Linked DNA regions of Homo sapiens. The protein of the gene in region 1 purifies or fractionates together with the protein of each later gene. This does not show direct contact. Each region holds a gene or a part of one and is shown on either strand. Other genes may lie near its edges.

Evidence for each region.
Region 2: the proteins of CLCN2 (region 1) and YJU2 purify together in Homo sapiens (affinity purification with mass spectrometry; one large-scale study listed by BioGRID and IntAct). This does not show direct contact.
Region 3: the proteins of CLCN2 (region 1) and SRSF8 purify together in Homo sapiens (affinity purification with mass spectrometry; one large-scale study listed by BioGRID and IntAct). This does not show direct contact.
Region 4: the proteins of CLCN2 (region 1) and C1orf52 purify together in Homo sapiens (affinity purification with mass spectrometry; one large-scale study listed by BioGRID and IntAct). This does not show direct contact.

What each region holds. Positions count from the first base shown.
Region 1 is NC_000003.12:184,351,598-184,355,145, forward strand, and holds part of CLCN2 (chloride channel protein 2), read right to left. Parts: intron 3,377-3,548; coding exon 3,307-3,376; intron 3,118-3,306; coding exon of another isoform or gene 3,062-3,117; coding exon 2,951-3,061; intron 2,718-2,950; coding exon 2,504-2,717; exon of another isoform or gene 2,503-2,503; intron 2,199-2,502; coding exon 2,065-2,198; intron 1,826-2,064; coding exon 1,653-1,825; intron 1,551-1,652; coding exon 1,436-1,550; intron 1,214-1,435; coding exon 1,140-1,213; intron 900-1,139; coding exon 846-899; intron 735-845; coding exon 696-734; intron 521-695; coding exon 416-520; intron 193-415; coding exon of another isoform or gene 100-192; exon of another isoform or gene 1-99. UniProt on the Homo sapiens protein: Voltage-gated and osmosensitive chloride channel. Forms a homodimeric channel where each subunit has its own ion conduction pathway.
Region 2 is NC_000019.10:4,266,828-4,269,630, reverse strand, and holds the end of YJU2 (splicing factor YJU2), read right to left. Parts: intron 2,008-2,803; coding exon 1,857-2,007; intron 1,048-1,856; coding exon 935-1,047; 3' UTR 543-934; downstream 1-542.
Region 3 is NC_000011.10:95,065,576-95,069,760, reverse strand, and holds the start of SRSF8 (serine/arginine-rich splicing factor 8), read right to left. Parts: upstream 2,843-4,185; 5' UTR 2,535-2,842; coding exon 1,686-2,534; 3' UTR 1-1,685. UniProt on the Homo sapiens protein: Involved in pre-mRNA alternative splicing.
Region 4 is NC_000001.11:85,253,121-85,256,668, forward strand, and holds part of C1orf52 (UPF0690 protein C1orf52), read right to left. Parts: intron 1-3,548.

The DNA.
Region 1 (3,548 bases):
TTGTTGGCTTGTTTATTGCATTTTCTTATCCTGCCTGTTTCTCACCCGTTTTTTTCCGCATGGGCGTATCAACCTTGCTGGGCTGTGGTGGCCTCCCGCCTAGCTCTGACCCTGGCCTGGCCTTCTGGCTTCCACCCAGCTCAATCCCTGTCTTTGTTGCTTCGTTGGTCCAGAGTTCCCTCGAGGGCAAGGCTGAGCAGAGGAAAAACGATGCCTGGCTCCACCACAGAGCAGGAGGAGGCTGCTCCCACCTCCCATCATCCAAGCAGTATGTCTAAAAAACATCTCCGCACTGAGCCAACTCCCTTCTCCTCCCTCCTTCCCCACTGGCCTGAGTCCAAACTTGTAGGGGGACCAAGATCCCCACTGTGTCCTGAGAGCCTAGACCAGCCCTGGGCCAGGCTGCTGGCCCTACCTTGTGCAAAGAGGTCCGCTCCACCAGCTGGAAGGGAGCAGGATCAATTTTGCAGTCACTGAAGTTGACAGGTTCATCTAGTTGCTGCTCCTCCCACTCCAGAATCTGAGGGGAAGAGACTATGAGGTTTAGGGAGAAGGTGCCTGTAGCTGACCTCACCTCCCTGAAAGCTGGCCTGCCCTTTTTCCAACCCCGTGGTCCCTCCCATGGGGACAGCAGCCAACATGATGATTGAACACAACCAGGAAGAAACAGGGTCCAGAGTCCAGTGGCACCTTACCTCTTCAGGGCTCATCTCGCCTTCCAGGTCCGCGTCACTCTAGTAGAGAGGGAGGGAGGCTGGCAGCTAGGGGCTCTGGAGTTTATCCAGCCTAGACCCTGCCCTCCCTGCCCGGTGCCGCCGAGATGCTAGAAGAGCAGGCATACTTACTGCCAGGGAGATTCGGACACGCTTCAGCTTGCGCTTCTCACAGGATTCCAACTTCTTCAGTTTTGTTAGAGCCAAACCAGAAAGATGAGGAGTTGAGGTTATAGGGAGAGGGGAGGTGAGGGGAAGTGGTGGAGCCCAGGGGAAAGGGCACGCCACAGGACCTGAGCTGACAGCAGGGAGGGCCGAAGGGCAGGGAGAATAGAGGCAGGCACTGCAGGGTTAATGACGTGGTCTCAGCATTGGAGAGGGAGCTGGGGAAAAAGCAAGCTAGGAGGACAGGCTCCAGCCACTCACCTCCGAAGCAGCCTCAGGGGGTGGACTGCCACAGAAGAGGCTCCGGAGGGCGATGCCTGCCGACTCTGCGCTCCCTGTGTTCCCAAACATAAGGCCCCAGGGGGCAATGTCATCTTTTGGGGAGAGGACCAGGAAAGGTAAGGAAGACACAGGGAGAGGTATCCCAGTTCCAGCCCTGGCCCATGTGGGCAGCCTCTTCCAGCTGGGATGTACCCCAGCAACAGGGCTGGGCAGGGACTCTAATGGATCTCAGTAGCTTGGCTGAGGCTCTGTGGACACAGGAGACATGGGCTTACCTGTGGGACTCTCTCCGAGGTTCCTGGTGACACTGGGCCCCCTCTTGAGTGCAGGCTTTAGGGGCTTGTGGGTCTCCCCCCGGGCTGCTGGGAAGGCTGAGTCTTCTGTGTTCACCTGCATAGGCAGGAAGGGGCTGGTGAGGCCACGGCCCCAGACCACCCTCCCAATCAGTCTACACAATGACATTTAGGAAGCGTTTGTGGCTTTTCCCCTCACCTGGAAGCAGACAGAAGCCTCAGGGGTAGGGGGACCCTCCTGATCAGATAGTGGAGAGGTCTGGGTGGCTCTGCGCTCCTGCATGTGCTGCCGCCGGCGGGCTGGGCTCAGCTGGGCCCCCAACAATGCCACCACCTGTGAACGCTCGATGGAGCCCAGCAGAATCATGGACTCTGGACAGAACAGGTGGAAGGACTCAGGAGCTGAGAGGGAGCCCTCCAGCCCCGTCCTTCTCTCACACTCAGAGTGGGGGGCCTTGCATGCAGGCCACACACCAGAGGGAAGCCCCCACCTGGCAAGTGCTGGTCCATTCCCTTTGGAACCAAGGAGACTGGTCCTGAGCTCCCTGCCCCTTCCCGAAGCTTCGACCCTGGGCAATGCCCCTAGCACCTGGGACCCCTCCTGGCCTCACCAGGGGACTCCACTAGGGCCAGCATTCGGCCCTTGGTCCTGTGCAGTGCCAAACGCAGGTCCCGGAAGGTGCAGCTGAGGGCCACATGGGGAACATCCCGCACCATGATGTCCTCCACACGCACCCGGTACTGCCTGGGGGCCGAGAGAGGCGCTTGGTTTGTGGTCAGCATGGGGAGAGGTGCCCAGAGCATTGCCATCCCAGGGCCACAAGGAGGGCTCCAGAGCCCATCCATGGGGACGGGAGCTAAGGACCAAGGGGTGCTCCCACCCTTCTTTCTGAACAGCAGGGGCCAGCTACAGCCCCTCCAGAGTGTGGACGAAGGTGGCTCATCTCCCAGCTTCGTAGGCTCCAGGACCTTGCTAGAGGTGGCTGTAGGGGGATCTAGGATGCCCTCTGCCCTTCACCCACAGCCCCCTTGGCACCCAGCCCTCCGTACTGGTGGCGGCCCCAGCCGAGCTCAGGCAGGTAGGGCAGTTTCTTGATTCGGATGATGCTGTCATAGAGGGAGGGCTGCAGACTCTGGGCGACAGCGTTGGCCAGGATGACGGCGATCATGACAGGCAGGATGTGGGCAATCTGGCCTGTGAGCTCGAACACGATCACAGCCGTGGACACTGTGTGTGTCACCGCTCCTGCCAGCGCAGCTGCCCCTGGGGACAGTCACACTCAGTCTCCTCAGGGTGCCCAGGTCCCAGAAGACCCTCCACAACCAGGGCAGGTCCTGAGTGGGTCCCTCAGGGCTGCCCAATACAGTCCTGGGATTGGACCTGTGCATCTGAGGGAAGCCTGGTTTCTGCCAGCAGGGGGCACCAGAGTCTCGGACCCTGTGGCTGGGGCGTGGGTGGGGGGGTCTCCCAAGGCCGATGGGACCTGAGGCACTCACCGACCACAGCGTAGCCCCCAGGCACAATCCGGTAGGTGCTGCTGTCCGTATGAATTCCATCTGGGAACCAGGCAGCCATGCTTTCACCCACCAGACGCCCAAATGCTGCTCCTTCAGGGAGGGGGGTGGGAAGAGAAAGAGGCAGTGGAGGGGGAGGGCAGGGGGCACTAGGAAGAGAGAGGGTCAGAGGGTGAGGGAGGGGCCAACGGGTCATTCAGTGTAGGGCACAGCCCTGTGGGGTCAGGGTTCGGGCTAGGGCTGGACCAAAAACCCGCTCTTGGGCAGAGGGTTGGCTGGGGGGGTGGCCAGAGGCTGAGGAAGGTGCAGGCTGGGTGAGCAGGCAGCTGAGAACTCACCAATGACAAAGACAGGCATGAAGGCCCCACAGGGAACTGGGATGGTGGTGGCCAGTGCAGACATCCAGAACTGCAGGCAGGGGGTGGTTCAAAGGCGAAGAGGCTCCACCTGGCCCCAGGCAGCCCACAGCGCCACCCAGGAGAAGTCTACCTCGCTGATCAGGTGGGCGTAACCCTCCCAGCCACCCCGTAACCCTCCTAGCTACCCTGGGACCCCCAGGCCTCCCAGGTGATGGCAAGGG
Region 2 (2,803 bases), on another chromosome or scaffold:
CGCCATCGCACTCCAGCCTGGGGGACAAGAGCGAGACGTCGTCTCCAAAAAAAAAAAAAAAAAAAAAAGGTAAAGAAAGAAAAAAAAAAAGAAGAGAAAACAAAAAGAGCCCAGATGCACACTCAGGCGACAACTAAATATAAATATCTGGGCTCATGCCTGTTACAGTGGCTTATGCCTGTGACCCCAGCACTTTGTGAGGCTGAGGCAGGAGGATCACTTGAGCCCATGAGTTCAAGATCAGCCTGGGCAACATGATGAAACCCAGTCTCTACTAAATATACAAAAAGTTAGCCAGGAATGGTGGCATCCACCTGAGGTCTCAGCGACTCGCGAGGCTGAGGTGGGAGGATCACCTGAGCTCGGAAGTTCAAGGCTGCAGTGAGTCAAGAATACGCTACCGCACTCCAGCCTGGGCAACAGAGTGAGATCCTGTCTCAAGACACAAACAAACCTCTGTGGAATGACCCTCGAATTGTGCTAACAGAGGAGGTCCTGGGACCTCCTCATCAGACTCTGGGAGAGAGAAGGGGCCCAGGCGGTTGGCAGGTTTCCTTTTATTGGTTCTAGACAGTTTGTGGAAGGAAGAGATGAGGCCATCTAGAGGCCGGCAGGCTCGCCCAGTGCCCCAAACACTGCCACCCTGAAGTAGTGTTGGAAGCTGCTCCAGGGATGTTGCAGCCCTAAGCACAGTGACAGGTGGGGGCAGGAGCAGCAGGGGTCCCCGAGGTGTTGAGAGGCTGGTGAGGGCACAGAGAAGGGACCTCCTGGGGCTGAGGCCCCTGGTGGCCCTATGTGTTGGAGCACGCTGGCGCTTGTCTGTCCGGCCTCCAGTCACGCCAAGGCCTCCTGCCCTGACCACCAGCAATGCTGGCCTCAATGTGGCTGAAGCTGGACGTGTGACTTTGACCCCGTGAGGGGGTCCTGGGAGGGCTCAGTTGCTGCCGTTGCTGTCGTCACTGTCCAGGTATGCACCCAGTTGGCTCAGGGAGGACGCGCCAGGCGTCAGGGGTGTAGGGTTGGCCTCCTTCCTGTTCTGCGGGGCTCCTGGTGGGAGAGCGAGAGTTAGCTCATCTCAGCTCCACAGCAGACAGGCCAGGGACAAGGCACGGGGCCGGCCACCTCTGCAGGTTTGCAAGGTCCAGAGGTGACAGCATGTGAATGGCCTGGCCTTTCTGGATGGCACCTGATGGGACCCATTGCAGATTTACATCTGCACACCCGGGACTCAACAGCTCCGCTTCTGAACAATGGCCAATGCAAACCTTGCCCAGGCAGGCAACGTGCGCTGCCAAGAATGGAAATGGCGCAAAGTTCACAGTCCAGTCACTGTGGACTTAATCGCCTTAGGAAACATCATACTAAGGCAACTAAAAGACAAAAACAGGCCGGGCGCGGTGGCTCATGCCTGTAATCCCAGCATTTTGGGAGGCCGAGGTGAGTGGATCACCTGAGGTCGGGAGTTCCAGACCAGCCTGACCAACATGGAGAAATCCCACCTCTACTAATAATACAAAAATTTAGCCGGGCGTGGTGCTGTAGTCCCAGCTACTTGGGAGGCTGAGGCAGAGAACTGCTCAAACCAGGGAGGCGGAGGTTGCGGTGAGCCGAGATGGCACCACTGCACTCCAGCCTGGGCAACAGAGCAAGACTCTGTCTCAAAAAAAAAAAAAGAAAAAAGAAAAAAGAAAAAAAGAAGCCGCCTGCCTTCTCTGCTCACTCCACTAATTGGTCCTGTGGGGGTCGCAGGCCGCCCCCACCCACCCCATGAAGTCTCTGTAACTGCAAAGGGAGCTGCTGCCACCTACAGGCCACTATAGAAACCGCGCCCGGCTCTGGGAACTCTGTGACCTTACCTGGGGTGGGGGCCGCCTGAGGCTGCCCGTTGCTGCAGTCCGGGTCGGCCTTTGCCTTCTTCACCACGACCAGCCTCGACAGCGGGGGCCGGCTGCCCAGGCTGCCAACGCTCTGCTCCCAGACCTCCACCTTCCTCTTGGGCTTTGGGGCCTGCAGGTGATGGGGACACATGTGGGGGTCTGGCCCGGATCCAGGGCCCAGTCTGGCCCCTCGCCACAACCCCTGCTCACTGCCCCATGCCCACTCTTCCACTGCTGCACTGACCACATTCCTCCTCTGCTCTAAACTCCTCTATGGCTCCCCACTGCCCTAGGCTTGGCACTCAAGGCCTCTGCCCATTCTCCATCCCACATAGCCTGGTCTGGCACTTCCTGAGTCACACCATGGCTTCTCATCTCCACGCCTTTACCCATGCTATTCCCTTCACCAGGGATGCCCCCTTTTCCATGCACTCGCTTGGTGAACTCCTACTCACCCTTCAATACCCAACACAAGACACCCCTCCTCTGAGAAGCCCATCATGGTTCAAGCTCACATGCAGGCTGCATGTCCACGCTCACAGTGCCCTCTGCTGGCTGTTATAACTCTCTCCCCAACTCTGCCGTGAGCTCCTGTCTTCCCCACTGCTGGCTCTGCGGTGCCACAAACAGTTCCTGGCACAAGGAGGTGCTCAATGTACTTGAGAGAACGAGTGAAAATGGAGGAAGCCGCCTTGAGAAAGAGTTAGGGGCAGGTAGAAAAGGCCTCCAGCTCCTTAACTGCAACAGAAGGGACCCTTTAATCTATATTATTAAAAAAATTTTTTTGGGGGGAAGGTCTCACTCTATTGCCCAGGCTGGAGTGCAGTGGTGCAATCATAGCTCACTGCAGCCTCGAACTCCTGGGCTCAAGCGATTCTCCTGCCTCAGCCTCCTGCAGGTGCACGCCACCATGGCAGGCTAACATT
Region 3 (4,185 bases), on another chromosome or scaffold:
TATATTTGTAAAATATTACATTTGTCATGACCAGAAGAAATGTCATTATCGTAAAATTTAGATTCTGGAGTCTATATATGAAAGCAATACTAACTACTAACTGTTATAACAACAAAATGTGGGATGTATATCTACAGACCACAGCCACCTTGCCAGTTCATTCAAGAATCGAACCCTGGATTTAGCAGTTTCTGCACAAAGGGAATGAAATATTTTTAATTGATAATTCAGTCAAAAATATTAATGAAGATCCATATGATTGAAAGAATAAATTTATTCAATTGGCTCCAATGTAATCCTATTGTCACCAGATCATTGACACCAAATTGTTATTTTTCCCTTTGCTAGTAAAGGTATAAGCAGAAACAATTGCAAAAGAACACATAACATCTAGTAGGGATAATGATGAAAGCCAAAAATGGATTATTTGAAAATAATTTTGGAAGTAAAAAAACCATAGGTGTGAGGAAAAAAGAGAGAAACTACAAATAAACTGCATTGTGATAAAACAATAAAGCACATAGCTAAAAGCCTATTAAGGATTTTTTAAAAATTATATTTTGAGAAACACTTGGTGCTAATAATTTTCTCAAAAGTACAAATATCCAAAAGTCATACAGAAAATAAAACAACCTACTTTCCATCAAAAGTTTCTAATTTTATTCTGAGAAAAGATAACACCAAGAAAACAATTTTAACTACAGAAACAATGGTTAGCGTAAAAAATTAATAATCAAAAAGATAAACCATGTTATAAGTACTTAACAAACTTATAAACTATTTCTTCCATAACATTCTCCATATTTTAAGTTCATACATGTTGATATGATCAGATTTACAATTTTTCAGAAAAGACGGGGGAAAAGGTGTGATTATCGTCAGCTAGATGTGCTCACTGCATGCTCCATTATTTATCTGCAAGGCCTGGGTGACTGGAAGTGCAGTTGACAGGCATTTTAATAAACTGGACAGCCATTTGTTCTTCAGGACAAGGCGTGTTTTCCCCAGGAGCAATCAGAAGAAAACAGGAAGCAGCTCAGCACTCTGCACTGCAACAGGCCACCTTAATAGCTAACCAGCATCACTCAACTGCTACGCAGCCGGGCCTGGTGCACAAAAACACAAAAGAGATTAGACCTGTGTTTGCTAAAACCCCAGTCCTTTCACATGAAAAATCTTTATACAAATTTGGGTCACACTACCTTTTAGACCTGGAGGTAAATAAAATTATCCATATTAATTTACACCACCTTTTGTAGGTTTTTAAGGAATGAAGGCAATGTTGAAGCATGTCTTGACAGCGTTAGGCTGTGTGTAATGGCTGCACACGTTTCCTTAAAAGTCAGGAGGCCACAAATTAGGTTACCAATCTGTTCATTTCAAACCAAAACAGTCATCACTATAGAAATAAAAATAAATTTTTGCCTCAAATATCCAAACCCAATAACGTAATCTTAGGTCGTTCACCTCCTAAGTTACAATAAAATGTGAATAACAACAAAACGGCACATAGAATGAATTTTGCCACCTGATGCAAAGCTTCAAACTGGCAAAAAGGTAGAAAAGTGTGACACAACCTTTTCAATAGGCAGCCTCTTCTTCCAGGGACGTTGCTTCCATAGACTGAGTATGTGATCCTTTTCCCCCAAGTCCTCCATCACGTTGCTTCCTGATGCATCATTTTCTTAAGAGGACATCTGTCCTTCCTCTTCAGGAGACTTGGGGGGCCTCTTGGATCGCGACCTTGACTTGGATTTCCTCTTGGATACCCGGGGAGGACTCCTGGTCATAGATGAAGACCTGGACCGCGAGCGAGACCTGGAGACCGAGGAGGACTTGGATCGTCGCGCAGAGCTCGATTTGGAGGTTGATGCAGAGCGAGAGCTAGTGGAGGACCCAGACTTCGAGTGAGACCGGCTGCTGTGATATCGGCTGTAGCGAGAGTTACTGTAACCAGATGAGCTGTAGTGAGATCCGCCGTAGCGAGATTCCCTGTAGCGAGATCTGCTGTAGGGAGAGCGGCTGTAGCGCGACCGGCTGTAAGGAGATCGGCTGTAGGGAGACCGGCTATAGCGAGAACCCCTATAGCGAGATCGGCTGCGGGACCTGGAGCAGCTGGGACCCCGGGATCGGCTGCGGTGTCGCCGCCTGGGGCTGCGGCTCCGCCGCCCGTAGCTGCGGCTCCGCCGTCCGTAGCCGCCGCCTCTGGACCTGCCGCGTGGCTCTCCCTGGCGGCTGCGGGGCAGGTCCCGGCGGCCATAGCGCGCCACCTGCACCCGCAGCTCGCGTCCGTCCAGCTCCGCCCCGTCCATGGCGGCCTCGGCGTCTTGGGCGTCGCGCCGGTCGTGAAAGCGGACGAAAGCGAAGCCCCGGGGCGCCTTGGTGTGGGGCTCCCGCGGGATGTACACGTCGCCCACGCGCCCGTACTTCTCGAACACGCGCCTCAAGCTGTCGGGAGAGGTGCGGTAGGTCAGGTTGTCCACCTTGAGGGTGATCATGCCGTCCACGTCGGGAGGGGGGCGGCCGCAGCTCATGGCTCCGAGAGCAGCCCGGGCCCGGAAACTGGCGCTGCTCTGGGCGCTGACGGTGCGACCTGCGTTTCTTTCTCGCGGTTGCGCCCCGCGTGGGGACGCCGGGAAAGGCCGGGCGGAGAGGCGGGCGGCGGAGCTCCGCAGGGAGCGCCCTGGAGCAGCAACTTCCGAGTTCCCAATTTCAGGCCAAATACTCCAGGACCCAGAGGAAGGTTTCCTTTTGGTAGCTGAACTCCAAATGAAGCCAGGCCCCGAAGATCCTGGCCTTGTACCTGGGCAACATCCTAACCTAATCAGCGCCCAGCTAATGTAATCACTGGGCTGGATTTACATTAGACGTCCCACCCTCCCATGCTCCTCCCTATTATTCTACGTTTTAAACCAATCTTAAGAACAAAGCTAACTGATTAAAGGTCAATTTATGGGAACAGGCAATCCAGACAAATATTAAACAAAAGAAACCTAGGGCAACAATATTAATATCCAGTGTATTGATAGGATCAAAGGAGCACATTTCATAGTTATTGAAAAGAAAATTCACTAGGAAAACATTACAGTGATGAACTTAACGCACCTAAACACATAACAGTGACACATAGCCAAGACTGAGAGTTATAAGGTAAAACTGAAAAATCTGCACTCATGATGGAAGTTTGTTTTTTCCCCGTAACACCGTTTTCTCAGAAATCAATAGTGCAGAGAACAAAACTAGTAATGCTATAATAATTTGCACAACAAACAACAATTTTGATCATATAACCTGCAACAACCAAAAATATATAGAAAACAGAAGAATTTCCCAATACAAGACTACAAAATAAATGTCAATTAAAATTTAATAGGTCAATAAATTCAGCACATCTGGACCTCAGTGAAATAATATTGAAGGTTAAAAATAAAAAACCTGAATCCAATCATATTTACTTGAAAATTAATAACCACATTTCTAAAACTTTTTTTATGTTGAAGTCAAGCAATTAGTAAAACAAAACCAAAACAAAAAATAAAACATTAAAATAAAAATAGAATTACAAATAAAAGGGACAATATGTTTTTTTAAAAAGATGATTAATAAAACTGAAATCTAACACTTTTAAAGAAAAAAACAATCTAGCAATACTGATGAAGAAATACAGTTTCTAAATCTGGAAAGGAAATATACAGAAAGGGCCTAGAGCATCTTGGAGTGCTGGAAAATAAGGATGTGATAAATAGAAAACAAACAAAAGCATTGATGGGGTAATTTTAGAGGGGTACAAAAACCAATAAAACAGCTCCCAATGGCCAAATCTTGAACAATTTAAGGAACAAACTAAAATACTACTATATCATATTCCAAAATATAAAATAAATATTAATCTGTGCTGTTGTAAATAAATGATTAAATAAATTAACACATTGGAGAAAAGAGAGAAAACTCCTCTGCAGGAGAATTCTAAATTAATTAAATTAATTAAAACGTTGCTGATTTTGAAAATGTTATGTAACCTTATATACATAGAATTGTGCTTTTTATATTTTAATGTATTTTGTGTTTTATTTCCCTCATCTATGTGTTCCATGTAGCTGTACTTGATCCTGTTACCTTGCCGTAAGGCATTCAATGGTATAAATGTTTGTGCTGTTGATGGGCACTTGGGTTGTTTCCACTTTT
Region 4 (3,548 bases), on another chromosome or scaffold:
AGCAGAAAAGAAGGATGATGAAGGGGCTTTATTGGCCCAACCAATAACAGAAACTAAGAACTCATGACTGTATTCTCTCCCTTGGACACCACTGCATGATAGTATTTACATTGTATATATTAAAATACAATCAATGCTTTGTAAGAATGGAGCATATTGTTTTCTTTTTACAAAAAATAGGTATCACTCTAACGATGACATTATTTAAGTGGCTATCAGCTGTCCTTTTCCTTTCAATCTGCTTTCTCTCCTCCAAAAACAACTTCTTCTGCCCCATCACCTTCTCCACCCACCCCAAATCCTTATTTTGAGGTTAAAAAGCACTCACAAGTAGGTTTCCCCAAACCTCTATTTGGAATTTTATTCTAGTAAGTTCTAATTCCCATCCCCGCCCTCCCCATCCCCACTCCCACGATGGCCAGAACATTTTAATGGCAACAGAAAAATACATATCTTCCTACTTCATATTATGGAGAATTTGGAGAGGGGAGGGAGGTTAGAGAAGAGCCTTACATTAAAACAATGTTCTTTACACCTTTCCAAAATGTTAATAGTATCTGTAGCCACAGAAAATTTCCAATTCATAAAAATGTTGTCAAACCTGGAAAAGTGAACTCTTTTATTGTATTTTAAAAAATCCAACTACATGGTTAAAAAAAAAATACAGGGTAGCACAGACTAGTTGCTAATTCCATCTCCCTAAGCAAATGTGTGGTATTAAGAACTCCATATAGACAGAGTAACATGGAAAAGATGTTATGATTTATAAAATACAAATTTATTTTGAGCACATTACTAATTAATTGTAGCTTTTGACTTTATTTTCTTGATCAACAGATACTCAAAAAGTTCAACAGGTTATCATGTGGAGATCTATAAAATATCTTGATATTGAAAGGAGCCTTCATTATTAAAAAATGTGAGGAACTACTGACATCAAATCATAAATTCCTTGAAGGAAATATTAAAATCTTAAGCCTTCAATTCCCTTCTGCTGACTGTACCATAATCAGAATATCTCATTTATTGATGCAGATAACAATCAATACCATTCATCTTCACTCCCCTTCAAGCACAGCACGGTGATGTTATTCATATGCTTCACAGAGCACTATGGATTTATGTAGGCAGTGGAATAAAATACAATTCAGATCAACTCACCCCAGGAATTTACAAATCAAAGTTTTAATCAGTAGTTCATCATGTTCATACAAAAACACTGGCTCCACAAACCAAATAACATGGTATACCACCAAAACAAGCCAAACGTTTTGCTTTTTTTTTTTTTTGAGATGGAGTCTTGCTCTGTTGCCCAGGATGGAGTGCAGTGGCACCATCTCAGCTCATTGTAATCTCCACCTCCCAGGTTCACGCCATTCTCCTGCCTCAGCCTCCCAAGCAGCTGGGACTACAGGTGCCTGCCATCACACCCAGCTAATTTTTTGTATTTTTAGTAGAGACGGGGTTTCACGGTGTTAACCAGGATGGTCTCTATCTCCTGACCTCGTGATCCACCCACCTCGGCCTCCCAAAGTGCTGGGATTACAGGCGTGAGCCACCGCACCCGGCACCTTTTGCTTTTTAACGAGTTAATTATCACTAAGCTCCTCTTTTGAGATTTTCAGTAGTGATAATATAAAAATGGAAAGTACTAAGTTTACTATAATATTCACTATGCATTAGCATACATTTAGATGATACTGAGATATTTTTGCTTTTAATTTGCCACTTATTACAAGTAAATTAACTGAATAACAAAACCACAAACTACTGAAGTTAAAAAGTAACTGGCTATCAGTGATTTGAGCAGAAGTGCTATGCCATCTAGTGTCATGACAAGGCATTGCTTTATAAACTAGAGTAGGAAAAAATCTGAGCAATGTTCATTTATCAATTTTACTGAGCTTTTTTACTCGGTCTCATATAGTATAGATGTACTGGTAAGGAAACAATTTTTTTATTATGGAACTCAAATCACTCAAGTAAGTTTAACTTATCAATAGACAAACTTTCTAAATTCTAAAAAGTGTAAACTAAAAATCACTATATTAATTATGCTTTTACAATTAATTATTATACATGTCAATAAAGCTACAACTAATAACTAAGCTTTGCTTACCTACATTTTACAACCACTAAAACCAGAAGTGGCAGGGTGCGGTGGCTCACACCTGTAATCCCAGCACTTTGGGAGGCTGAAGCGGGCGGATCACGAGGTCAGGAGATCGAGACCACCCTGGCCAACATGCTGAAACCCCATCTCCACTAAAAATACAAAAATTAGCTGGGCGTGGTGGCGTGTGCCTGTAGTCCCAGCTACTTGGCAGGCTGAGGCAGGAGAATCGCTTGAACCCGGGAGGCGGAGGTTGCAGTGAGCCGAGATCACACCACTGCACTCCAGCCTGGGCGACAGAGCGAGACTCCATCTCAAAAAAAAAAAAAAACCCGAAGGGCTGATAAGCAGCAAGACCCAATGATGAGTTCTGAACCTTTCCCAGCCCTTCCTCTAAAGTAACTGGAAGACGTTAACCGGCAATAAAAGGCCAAAGGGCAGAATGGGGAAGCAAAATAAAAAAGTCACTTGCTAATCTAAAATCTGGGTAAGAGTGTAGAGTTTCTGATATATATTTTATGAATGAAAAAGAAAGGCTAAAAAATTATGACATAATTGATTTTATAGGAATCTGAAAATCACTTCTAAAAAATGGGTCTGTTATTTGATTTTGCCTGTATTTGTTTTCCAATAAAGGACCATCATGTGATCAAAAAGACAGAAATTATCTATGTGAATAGCAGTGTTACCTGCCACATATTTGGAACTCCTTCTAACTTAACTCAAAAGCTAAGCTAGAAAAAGATAATTCTTTCTTGCTTGCTTGCCCTGGTGTATAATCCTGGTTTTTTCCATATAACTACAAAGATGTGAGAGCACCAGCCTATGGAAATCTAGTTTGAGTATCAACCCTAGTATCTTTACTGCCATTCGCCCTACAGAAGAATAGCTATATCTCACTGTTGAGAAATGGCTATTCATCAGGAGACCAAATCCCAGTTTAATAAGGCATAATTTCTATTTAAAGGTCTGGATTTGAATGCCTACTACTCTGTCTCTTCTTTAGCTGCGTGAATGAATTTGGGTAAAGTCCCTAATCTCAGATTGTTTTATCATCTGTAAAACAGTAATAATGAGTCATGTAGCACTTCTGTATCAGGTTGCTCGGAGTAATAAATTAGAAAACTGTGTGAAAGTGCCTATTTTAGAATTTGGCATTTTCTAGTTTGTGACCTTGGACAAGTTATGTAAGCTATCATTTCCACATTTCTCTATCTTATTTCACAAGGTGTTGTAATAAAGATTATTTAAGCAAATATATTTTTACTAATTATGAAAAGGAATGGCCGGGCACGGTGGCTCACGCCTGTAATCCCAGCACTTTGGGAGGCCAAGGCGGGCAGATCACGAGGTCAGGAGATCCAGACCATCCTGGCTAACACGGTGAAACCCCGTCTCTACTAAAAATACAAAAAATTAGCTGGGTGTGATGGCA